3 linked regions of the Homo sapiens genome follow. The protein of the gene in region 1 interacts with the protein of each later gene in a pairwise test. Each region holds a gene or a part of one and is shown in the gene's direction. Other genes may lie near its edges.

Evidence for each region.
Region 2: the proteins of THSD7B (region 1) and SPACA1 interact in binary tests that used the Homo sapiens proteins (3 or more experiments, as listed by UniProt).
Region 3: the proteins of THSD7B (region 1) and PIGP interact in binary tests that used the Homo sapiens proteins (3 or more experiments, as listed by UniProt).

The regions. Positions count from the first base shown.
Region 1 is NC_000002.12:136,763,882-136,767,634, forward strand, and holds the start of THSD7B (thrombospondin type-1 domain-containing protein 7B precursor), read left to right. Parts: upstream 1-1,663; 5' UTR 1,664-1,806; intron 1,807-3,753.
Region 2 is NC_000006.12:88,050,742-88,054,494, forward strand, and holds part of SPACA1 (sperm acrosome membrane-associated protein 1 precursor), read left to right. Parts: intron 1-3,204; coding exon 3,205-3,261; intron 3,262-3,753. UniProt on the Homo sapiens protein: Plays a role in acrosome formation and establishment of normal sperm morphology during spermatogenesis. Important for male fertility.
Region 3 is NC_000021.9:37,066,436-37,070,188, reverse strand, and holds part of PIGP (phosphatidylinositol N-acetylglucosaminyltransferase subunit P), read left to right. Parts: intron 1-564; coding exon 565-637; intron 638-2,808; coding exon 2,809-2,927; intron 2,928-3,753. UniProt on the Homo sapiens protein: Part of the glycosylphosphatidylinositol-N-acetylglucosaminyltransferase (GPI-GnT) complex that catalyzes the transfer of N-acetylglucosamine from UDP-N-acetylglucosamine to phosphatidylinositol and participates in the first step of GPI biosynthesis.

The DNA.
Region 1 (3,753 bases):
CATGGTCTTGGATTTAAGAAAATATTCTGGGATCTGGTTGGCAGCTGATTTATTTTTAAGACAGTGATGTCAGGAAAAAAAAAAAGCATAACCCAGAATGTGACTGTAGTGGGAGAATAGCGATTGCTGTTTAAAATATTAAGTAAGGCTTCCCTGCTTTCAGAACCCATCATCCCACAGCAAGCTGAGTTGAAGCCCCTTACCAATATATTCACATCTTTCTTTACAATGGCACTTACATTCTTTTGATTTCTTTTTATCTGTGACAGATCCTAGCTTCTCTATTTATCTCTTGAATCTAATTTGCTCTATGACATCAAGCTTTAATTTTATCATTATTATTTTGCTTCATTTTAAGCACCCATGGTGTGCCAGGCATTGGATAAAATAGAAAAGATACAATCCCTGCTGTCGCTGGGCTCACACATTTAAAGAGATTTGACAGGCAAAATATCCTGTAATTGGCAATAGGTAGTCCTCATGCTTCCCCCCGCCCCTTCTCCCTTTTGAAGCAACTTCATCTCTCTGAACAAGCTTAAGAAGTTCCCTAGATCAAAGGTGTCAAAAACCAGAAGGGTTTGGAACAAGTGTCAGAGAGTAAGCAAACGACTTTCTGAGCTGTGACTCTGCTCCTCGACTGCCCACGTGCTCTCCGCTGTCTGCACTCCTGCCTCACCTGGGCTGACTCGGACTCTCCACCTCCTTTGCTGCTTCCGGCATGAGCTACCCAGGAGCCTAAGGCGCTCCTTCCCGCAACTCCGGTCCCCGCGCCCCGGGACTGCAAATCCTTTAAACAGAGGCCCCAGAGCTAGGGGTTTTCCCAGGCTCTGGTGGGCGTGGGCTGACAGTCGCTGGGAGCCCCGCAACAGGGGGGATGTCCAGGCAGGTATGCACCCAGCTCCCGGCGTTTCCCGGAGTCACCACAATGTTTCCCTTTCTCTCTCCCCCACGTATGCTGCTAGGGGTACTCCCCAGATAGGATTTTCTTTGTCTTTTCTCCTAGTAACACCGAAGCCCTCTCGTGCCCGGGGACTGCAGAGGAACGCCAGACCATCCGGACCTTGCGGGATGGCTCGGTGTGTGTGTTTTACTGTGTGTCGGAGTGTCGCGCATGTGTGCGTGTTGGGGCGCGTTATCAACAGGGGCCTAGGGCACCCCCACTCTTTCTTGCTCTCTTCCCCCATCACTTCATGGACCTCCGAGGCGCAAAGCGCTCGACCCTCTCCTGGGCTCAGTGGCTTGGGTACTCCGGGCTGAGCTCAGCTGGGGAGTCCCCTTACCCAGCCCGCACCGGCACCCCGAAGCTTCAAAGTTGCGGCAAACAGTTGCGGGGAGCAGAGGAACTGAGGTCCAGGCCAGCGCGCCCGCGGTCGCTCGCCTTGGGGAGCAGGCTGAGCCGAGGGTCGTGCGGGTGCGCGGCAGAGGCGGTAGGAGGCGGAGGAGAGGGGGGAGAAAGAGGGGGCGGTGGGGAACAGCTGCCGGGGTAGGCGAGGCGCAAGGTGGCTCCCCGCGGCCCCGCGCCCCGCGGCTCTCGGACGCACCAGGCAGCCAATGGCTGCGCAGAGGTGTACAGCAGATGGCGTCTGACTGCGCCGTTCCTTCCTCCTCCTCCTCCTCCTCCTTCTCTTCCTCCTCCTCCTTCTCTTCCTCCTCCTCCTCCTTCAGTGCTGAGGAGCCAGAGTCGCCGCCGGGTTGCCAGACGCTGGAATGGGTGGTCTTCCGACACACACCACCATCTTTCTTGCGCTCGGGAAGCTCGGGGCTCAGCGGCTCCCAGAGGTTACGGCGGCGGCTCTGGCGAGACGGGTGAGTGCAAGCACGCGGAGCCCCGAGTCGGGGATGCCGGGCCCCCTGGCCGGCCGACTGGGGCGCGGGGTGGCAGCGCCGGGGAAGGGGGCGCGCTGCCGGCGCAGACTTTGCTCTTTCCTCGCCGGACAGCCATCGTCGCCCCTTCTCCCAGCCAGACGCGGGAACTTGGAAGCGGATCTTCTCGGACGCCTCTGGCTTGGGGCTGCGGGAAGCGTGGGCTGCCCGGGGCGCAGTGTGCGGAGACCCTCTAGGCGGGCGGGGACGCCCCACGCGGCGACCTGAGCACCGACCTCATGCAACGGGACCGAACCTTGGGACCCGGGCAGCAGGAGCTCTGTTCCCTTCACCTCCAGCTTGGTTTGAGGGATACTGATGAAGGAAACCGGGGGTTTCCCGTCCTGCGCGGAGAGCCTCGGCGCCCAAAATCGAAAGGCCGGGAGTTGTTCTGCAGGCTTTGCAAACAGGTTGACTGAGGGTTTCCTTTCCCGTAGCGCTGACTGCGAAATCTGTGCATAGGCGTTCAGTGCCAGTGGAGGATAGCTGAGCAAGCCAAGAAGTTTTGCAGCTTCCTCTGATTTATCGGTGGAGTGTCAGGAGGCTGTAGCAACAGTTTACATTTCCCCTGTCCCTGCGAGTGGCTAGGGGCAAGCTGGGCTCGGACGTGATATCCTGCTGTTTGTGGAGAGGAAACTGGGAACGGGGCTTGAGAGTGAGGGGCAGGGAGGGGGGGACAGGCATATTTTCTACTGCATCGCCCATCTGCACCTGTCCCCTTTGCTGTCTTACATGTCCCATAGTATTAAAGTTATTTGAATAAGCAAATGAACCCCGCTCTTTGGTGACCGCGTATTTTGAAGTTGGAAAACTTTGCAGGGGACGAGGGAATGTTGAGGAGGGGGCGTTAAGCTCTCTCACTCTATCCCTTTTTAAAGACAAGAAAAAAACTTTCGTTGGCGAAGGTGGTACTTTTTTCTTTTGGAATGTCTGAGCTCAGAGCTTCCCATAAGAGGTATTGCGATTCAATACTGTACAGTCAAGGTGAAGTTCCACTAAGATTATGGGACCGTGGCATATTCTACGGAAGATACCAGGGTTCCTTGGCGCTCTGTTCATTGCCAGGGTGGTCTGCTGAAAGCCGGCAGTTTCCCACCCTCAGACTCCTTGGAGCTCTTTAAATGACGGTCTGCCTGGTGTTTCTCAGCGGTACACCTGTGAGTGCTCTGTTATCATGGAAATGGTAACCCATGCAGGTAGGGCTCATGCCAACCAGACTGTGGTGGGGTGTGTGTGTGTTTGTGTGTGTGTGTATACATGCGCGTGCGTGTGAACGTGTGTGTTTGGAGTTTCCTTTTGACAGGTAATCTTTGGATGTCAAAGGGATACAGTTATTTGTCTGGCAGTGTCAGGGCAATCTGAGTTTCTCGAGTAACTAGGAGGAGGTAATCTCCAGGGAAGCCTTTTTGTGCTCTTGACTGTCTACTCAGCAGTTGGTGAAGGCTTCCTGAAAGCCACTTAGGGTGTTACTAACCAAATCAAGAAGTCTTACTCAGTGGTGAGTGAAAGCTCGTGTCTTTGTGGGTTAAAAGCTGTTTATAAAGTTTCTGTCTTGAGGCTTCACTTTGACAGACTGCTGTTTTTAAACCTTAGTGCCATTAATAATAGGAGTCTTCTTTTGAAAAGTAATGTGGCCAGTTCTCTGTTTTCTGAGGGTAGTTGATCTAATCTGGTAGATTCCCTGGAATTGTTTTATTTTCTATCCCTGGGAAGTGTGTGTGTGTGTGTGTGTGTGTTGTGTGTATTTGTGTGTGTGTGTTTTCTTCATCTACCTGCTGAGAGTTGAGGGTTAGAAACTCTTTTTCATGCAAATTTAAGTGAAAAAAATTATGAAGAAAATTCTTCTGACACTGTAACAATATACACAGATACTTCTGAAAAAATTGTAGG
Region 2 (3,753 bases), on another chromosome or scaffold:
TCTTTCATTTTTAAATTTTAGTCATTTAAAAATGTAGTTGAAAATAATGAGCAATACCATCATTATGGATGATGAAATATCACAATGTTTCAAGATAAAGAAAAATCATTAAGATATTAGATTTATGGCCAGGGGCGGTGGCTCACGCCTGTAATCCCAGTGCTTCGGAAGGCCGAGGTGGGCAGATCACAAGGTGGAGATCGAGAGCATCCTGGCTAACACGGTGAAACCCCATCTCTACTAAAAATACAAAAAATTAGCCGGGCGTGGTTGCGTGTGCCTGTAGTTCCAGCTACTCAGGAGGCTGAGGCAGGAGAATGGCGTGAACCCAGGAGGTGGAGCTTGCAGTGAGCCGAGATTACGCCACTGCACTCCAGCCTGGGCAACAGAGCGAGACTCTGTCTTAAAAAAAAAAAAAGATAATAGATTTATATCCTTATACTTTTGTTATACCTTGTATACCATGTAATATACCTTTTAAATATATCTTTTATACAAGTATACCCTTAGATTTATAAAAAGGGGCCAATAGACCTACATAGTAATTGCAAAATAGAAAGTTGTAGTCTATACAATGGGTTTTATCCTATACAAATATAACTATATGTTATTTTTGTCTTGGAATACTTCTAAGGAAGAACAGAAGTCATAAAATATCAGCCTTTCAAATCAACTGTCAGAAACTGAAAAACTCAAATTGCACTCTGATGATATATACCAAAAGTTACCATGTGCTGTCCTGAACTGAAGAGAACATTTCAGGATCTGGCCACAACTAAAAGAGCAAGATCATTTTCCTTATCACTGTGGATGCCAGGCTTTTGTTAGTGTAGTCTAAGACCCAGTAGATTTTTAGGGAAGCCTCTGCACATCTTTGATTCCTATTGAATTCACTATTGAACTCTCCATTCGTTTTTAACTGTCCTATCAAATTAAGACCACCCATAAAATAGTTTTGGACAGTTGGCTTTTTAGCTGTATGTGAAGGACTTTTTATTCCTACAAGGTTTCATTTTGTTAGATTTGCCCATTATTTCACCCTGTCATCTTTTAGATCCAGATGTATCATCAAATATATTTGCTATCCTTTCTAGCTTTGCAGAATTCTGGATTCAGTCAGCATGATAACAGCATCTTTTTCCAGGTCATTAATAAAAATGTTGAACAGGACAGAGCCCTGTGACACATCACTCCTACCATGTTGACACCAACTGGTTAATTAACAACTGTGGTCTTAGAGTTTAAACAGTTTCACATAAAACTACTGACATTCAGACCATATATTTTTTTTACCACTCATAGGTTTATAACAAGAAATTTTGACAAATGCCAAACTGAAGTCCAGTTACATACAATTCCACTGACCCACCATTGTAGGATTCCCATTTTTAAAAAAAGTTACTGAGTAAACTAATGGACACTCAATACATCATAGAATATTAAAGCTGAAAGGGACTTTAGAAACTTTCTTATTTAGTCTCATTTTTTTTTTCTTTAAGGAAACAAGTTGGAAGAAATTGAACAACTCTCCCAAAGTAGAATGCCTAGTGATTGACTAATGGTTTTTGAAAAAGGCTTATATTTAAAAGTAGTGCAGCACTCATTCTCTTAGCCGTGTTTTCTATGTTCAGGATTTGGCTTTTAATTTGTGTCTCATAATGTGTCTGTAGAAGGTATCTAAGCATTCCACAATTCAAAATGGATCATCATGATAGTCTAAATCATTTATTTTCGTTAAAGAAATGACTTAAAGTCAATATTGATTTACTTATGTGCATTGGGTGCTTACTGAGTATGCAAGATACTATACTGGGGCTGGGCACGGTGGCTTATTCCTGTAATCCCAGCACTTTGGGAGACTGAGGCTGGTGGATCACTTGAGGTCAGGAGTTTGAGACCAGCCTGGCCAACATGGTGAAACCCCGTCTCTACTGAAAATACAAAAATTAGGTGGGCATGGTGGCGTCTGCCTGTAGTCCCAGCTACTCAGGAGGCTGAAGCAGAAGAATCACTTGTGCCTGGGAGGCGGAGGTTGCAGTGAGCCGGGATCATGCCACTACACTCCAGCCTGGGCAACAGAGCAAGACTCTCTCGGAAAAACAAAAACAAAAAACTATATTTGGTGCTCTTAAGTACAGAATAGTAGTGTTTATGAAGCTATTTTGAGATTTTACAGTTATCAAAATAGGGGAAAAAAACATTAAATTAATAAGTACAAAATGAGTTTAAATTGGGTAATTATATCTTAAGTATGTTTGTAGTACTAAACAATTTATAGAATGCTTTCACACACATTATCCTTATTTAATTCTTACAGCAATCAAATGAGGATTTTCCTTTCCAAATTTTGCAGAAGGGTTAACTAAGCCTGACAGCATTTAATTAAATTTGCTTAAATGCAAACAGCTAATTAGTGATAGAAGCAGCTCTTTGGACTCCAGTTCGATGTGTTTTCCATGCGATTTGTTGTCCTAGGGTACAATGCCTTTTGAAAGTCATCTTCTAACAACTCACTTTATATTTTTTCTATTGAGACTTTCGTCCTAATTTGAGCTGAAGAATTGCTTATATACTATAGCTAGTGGAATTCTATGCCAAACTTCAAATGATTAGAAAAAGAGAAACATATGATTTAGAACCAACAACACTTAATTTCTTAAATAGTGATATATTCCTATACTAACCTTGTAAAGTGTTGAAATAAATTCTTAGAAATATTTAAATTTACCATCTTAACCTGGGAAATGAGTAGAACTAATCTATAACTTTTATCATTTTAATGAACACTGGTTAAGGGCTTCTTTTTGAATGGAAATTATACACTCAATTTTGGAAAATAGAGAATAGAAAACATTGGTTTTTACAACAGATAGGGCTTTGTGTGTTTTTCTGAGACCCTCTATCAAGTTTTGACTCACTATATATCAACTGATGAAAAACATTTTTAAGGTATATACAAAGTTTAAATATAAACCTTCCTATTAGGTTATTTCCTAATTTAATGGACTTCTTTAGAGGTTTGAGACTCTTTTGAGTTAGACAATAACAGTACTCAGAATGGCATTGTTTTCTGATTTAAATGGAAAACTTAAAAAATGTCTGCTGCCCATATCATACACATGTCTTTCATCTCCAAGTAAGAGGTGTTTCACTTAGAAAAGTTTTCATATAATTAAATAATGTATCTTTACCCTTTATGTTTAGTTTCAAATAGGAATGTCGTCAAAGAAGTAGAATTCGGAATGTGCACCGTTACATGTGGTAAGTAGCTTGGAGCAGATGAATAAACCATGTTGTAATTTGCGGGGGAGGAAAGGTAAAAGCAGATAGTGTGCAACTTTGTAACTTGTGTACTTTCATGCATCTCTCATGGATTTTTATTTCTAATAACTATAATGTATACACAAAACTCAGGGTGATTGCTTTAAACTGTAAGATATTTTCAGTTTATAATCTCTAAATCTTATTTTAAGCCAGCTCCCTATTTTTTTTTTTTTTGCACATAAACTGCCTTCACCAAAGTAAAATTTTCTCTATCTCACAGATGTTCAGAAGACGAAAGATTTTCCAATGCATCTCACAGATGTCTTCCCACATATTGTGTTGGCAAATTTATCAAGAATTTGCTTATTTGTAATAGTCCATTCTAAATTCTACATTTCTCCAATTTGCGTGTCATGTTTTGGAGAAAAGATGTATTGGCTTTGTGGGGAGGATAATATTCAAAGAATATGACTTAGTCTGATCATTCCA
Region 3 (3,753 bases), on another chromosome or scaffold:
ATCTTAATGCATACAGAATGCTTGGAACTGTGCTTAACCCACAGTGAGTGCTCAGAACTTAGCCATTGTTGTTATCGTGGGATAACAGTAAAGAGTGCCGAGATTTCGGATTGAGGGAAATAACATTGTACTCTGGGAGATAGGGCAGAAGCTCAGTATGTGGTGGATGAGAACTAGGGTAGGTAAATTTCCCTTTGAGCAATTAAATGTCTATAATTACTTCAACCTTGTGGGGATGAAGTATTGAACACTTACTGTACCTAAAGCAAACTGCTAGGTAATAAGGATTACAACAATTGCTAAGCCATGATTTGTATCCTTGAATTGCTTAAAATATAATGTGAGTTAAGATATTAAAAAAAAAGACTAATACAGTAATTATAAGTATTATAAGAATTGTGCAAACGAGCTAGAAGAACTGAAAGGAGGAAAAAATCATTTCTGAGTTAATCAGGGACACTTCAAAAGAGCTTTTCTGTTTTATCTGAATCTTAATAGATTGATAGATTAGATGTATGTCTTACTGACTTCTCTTCCTCTTTTTTTTCTTTTTCTTTTCTACAGTACTTTACCTCGTGTGGGCCTTTATTCCTGAATCTTGGCTAAACTCTTTAGGTTTAACCTATTGGCCTCAAAAGTAAGTTTAATATATTTCTTAAATGAGGATATAATTAATGCTGTTTTGAGGAGTCATATCATTTCTTAAACCTACCCAAATCTTAAATATTTGTTCTCTTAAAATTCATGAATAGCCATATAGAAATTGAAAGCTTTTTAAAGATCGCTATTGATACATCTCTAATTAAAGATGGTAGCATGAACACACATGTTTATCTCCATCCATTTCCTCCAAAAATCTTGTTAAAATGACCCTACAGGAAAAAAAAAAAAAACTGAAGATACAAACCACAGAAACAATAGTATAGCAGAAAAGAGATATCAACCACATTTTGGAAAGTGGATTGTGATAGGTGAGAGGTAACTGCCTTTGTTTCTGTGATTTTCACGTTGCTGAAGTAGGGAAGCCAGCAAGAATATTTGTGCCTTAGAACTCCAGAATAGCTCAGACATTGGGGTACCAGGTAGCTCTTTAATTCTGGGTTGAACTGAAAACATGTTTAAAGACCATATGAAGTCTTCAGCCTTCAAATCTCCCTCAGCCCTCAAAGCTGGGAGGCCTGCCCTGCCCTCCCCTGCAGAAAACAGGAGTTTTACTCTCTGGCAAGGTTAAGTAAGAGTCTCTAGCATGGGGGCCACTAAGTCTGAGTGTGGGAATGCGGCATCTTACTGAAAACAGGGAAGTAAGTGAAAATCTACATGGCTTAATGAGAAGATTTACCTCCTGCTCCATCTTCCCTCTTGGGGCTTCGAGGCTTATATCACCCTACTGCTCACAGAAAAAGATAGATAGTTCTTTCCTGAGGAAGCTGACCAGCCCGAGAGAAAGGATCTATAATTTCTGACATTTAGAGGACCCCAGTGAAGTGGCCAAGTCTCTCAGAGTGAGGCTCACCAGTTGACCATCCCTGCCCACATACACATAGTGCTTCCAACTCACTTGTTAGCACTTCATTTTTAAATATGAATGGACTACTCTAAGTTACCAGACATTAAAAGAAAGCCTCTAGCATGAAATGAAAAAGCAGAAAATTAAAGGGAATTTGAAGGAAATAGAGATAATGCAGGAAACAGAAAAAAAAATTTAAATAACATAAAATTCTCAGAGGTAAGAAACAATTATAACTATGAAACAAGAACAGAATGCTATGCAAACAGGAAATTACTGTATTTGGAAATTGTAAACATGATAACCAAAATTAAAATTTTAATTGAAAGACTGGAAAATAAAACAAAGGTAATCTCTAGAAGTTAGAACAAAAAAAAATGAAAATATAAGAAAGTATAATCGTTAAAAATTCAAACTATTAGAAGTTCCAGAAAGAGAAAATAATAGAGAACAAATCATTTAAAAAAAAAAAAACATCTGGCCAACATCTCAAGACCCCATTTCTACAAAAAAATTAAAAATTAGCCAGGTGTGGTGGTGTGTGCCTATAGTCCCAGCTACTTGCAGGGCTGAAGTGAGCTCAGCAGATTGAGGCTAGTGATCTGTGATCATGCCGTTGCACTCCAGCCTGGGTGACAGAGGGAAATGCTTTCTCAAAAAGAAAAAAAAAACACTCAATGAAAAATAGCACTCCATGTACATAATGATACTGAGAGGCATAATAGAGTCCTATCAGAGAATTTGAGGCTCTGGTATTGGTGGATTCCTGGGAAACCAAGTGAACAGACAAAAAGATGTAATTATTCCAGAAAAAAAAAAGTTGTACAAGAAAATATATAATAATAATGTACTAAGATCCTCAGTTGCAAAATTGTTTATGTAGGTACAATTATTTCTAAAACCTGCTGCTATAATGAGAAATTGCAATGTAAGTATAGAAGAGGATAGGAGGAGGTTAATTCCTTATCTCCATATTAGGAAGCCTAGAGAAAATGTCTGTAATGGAAAAAAATGAGGAAATAGTAATATGAGCATGTTTTGTAGCAATGAGGAGGTAAGTACCAGAAGACAGCTCAAGTGCTCAAAGCATTTCTTTTTGGAGAGTGAGACCCCAGGGTTGGGATGGTGGGATAGAGGACTGCAGTTTTTCACTGTAAGCCTTGTGGAACTATTTGTCTCTTATGTACACATATTACTTTATAAAATTTAAATTTAAAAAACATGTTGGCTTTGTGACCGACTCTTGAGAATTACAACTTTTTTAAAGTGTCTATTATGTACTTTAATATTCTCTTTGGCAGATATTGGGCAGTTGCATTACCTGTCTACCTCCTTATTGCTATAGTAATTGGCTACGTGCTCTTGTTTGGGATTAACATGATGAGTACCTCTCCACTCGACTCCATCCATACAATCACAGGTAACTTTATATAAAAGGAAAGTGCTGGGGCAATGAAAGAGTGGAGTATTAGCACTTTTACCCAGAAAAGCAACAAAGAACAGGCTGCAAAACCCATGTTGGTGGTGCGCGTCTGTAATCCCAGCTACTTGGGAGGCTGAGGCAGGAGAATCACTTGAACCCAGGAGGCAGAGGTTGCAGTGAGCCAAGATCCCACCACTGTACTCCAGCTTGGGTGACAAGAGTGAAACTCCATCCTAAAAGAAAACACACACACACACACACACACACACACACACACACACACACACGGACAGTAAAAAGAAGCTACTAAGAGAAATAAATACAAACTTATATAAAAGGAAATATTTGCATGAAGGAATTAAGTTCTGATGAATACACACTAGCTATATTCATGGAGGAAATAAATTATAATTAATTATAGCACTGGTTAGCAGGTGTATGTTCCCATAAAAACCACAAGTATATGCTATATGTGTCTATAATATGTTCCCATTAACTTTGCCTGAGAGAAGCTTATCCTGAACAGACACCGTTGATCAAGGGATAGTAAATAGTACATGCAGACCTTGTTCAGAAAAAGGACTTTGGGGGTGTGTATCCTCCTCAGGATCATTGTGTACTCCTTATTCCAATTAAGTGGATAAAAGAGCCACAACACGTTCGTCTGGTTTTATTTTTTTAAAGTTCTTTCAAGTCTAAAGATGAAAATAAATCAGACTCCTGAGCTTGCTTAAATTCTAGAAAGTAAAGTATTTTTTAAGTTCCCTGGTATGATTTTTCAACTTTTCAAAACCTTTATATATTAGCCTCTACAATGTATTTT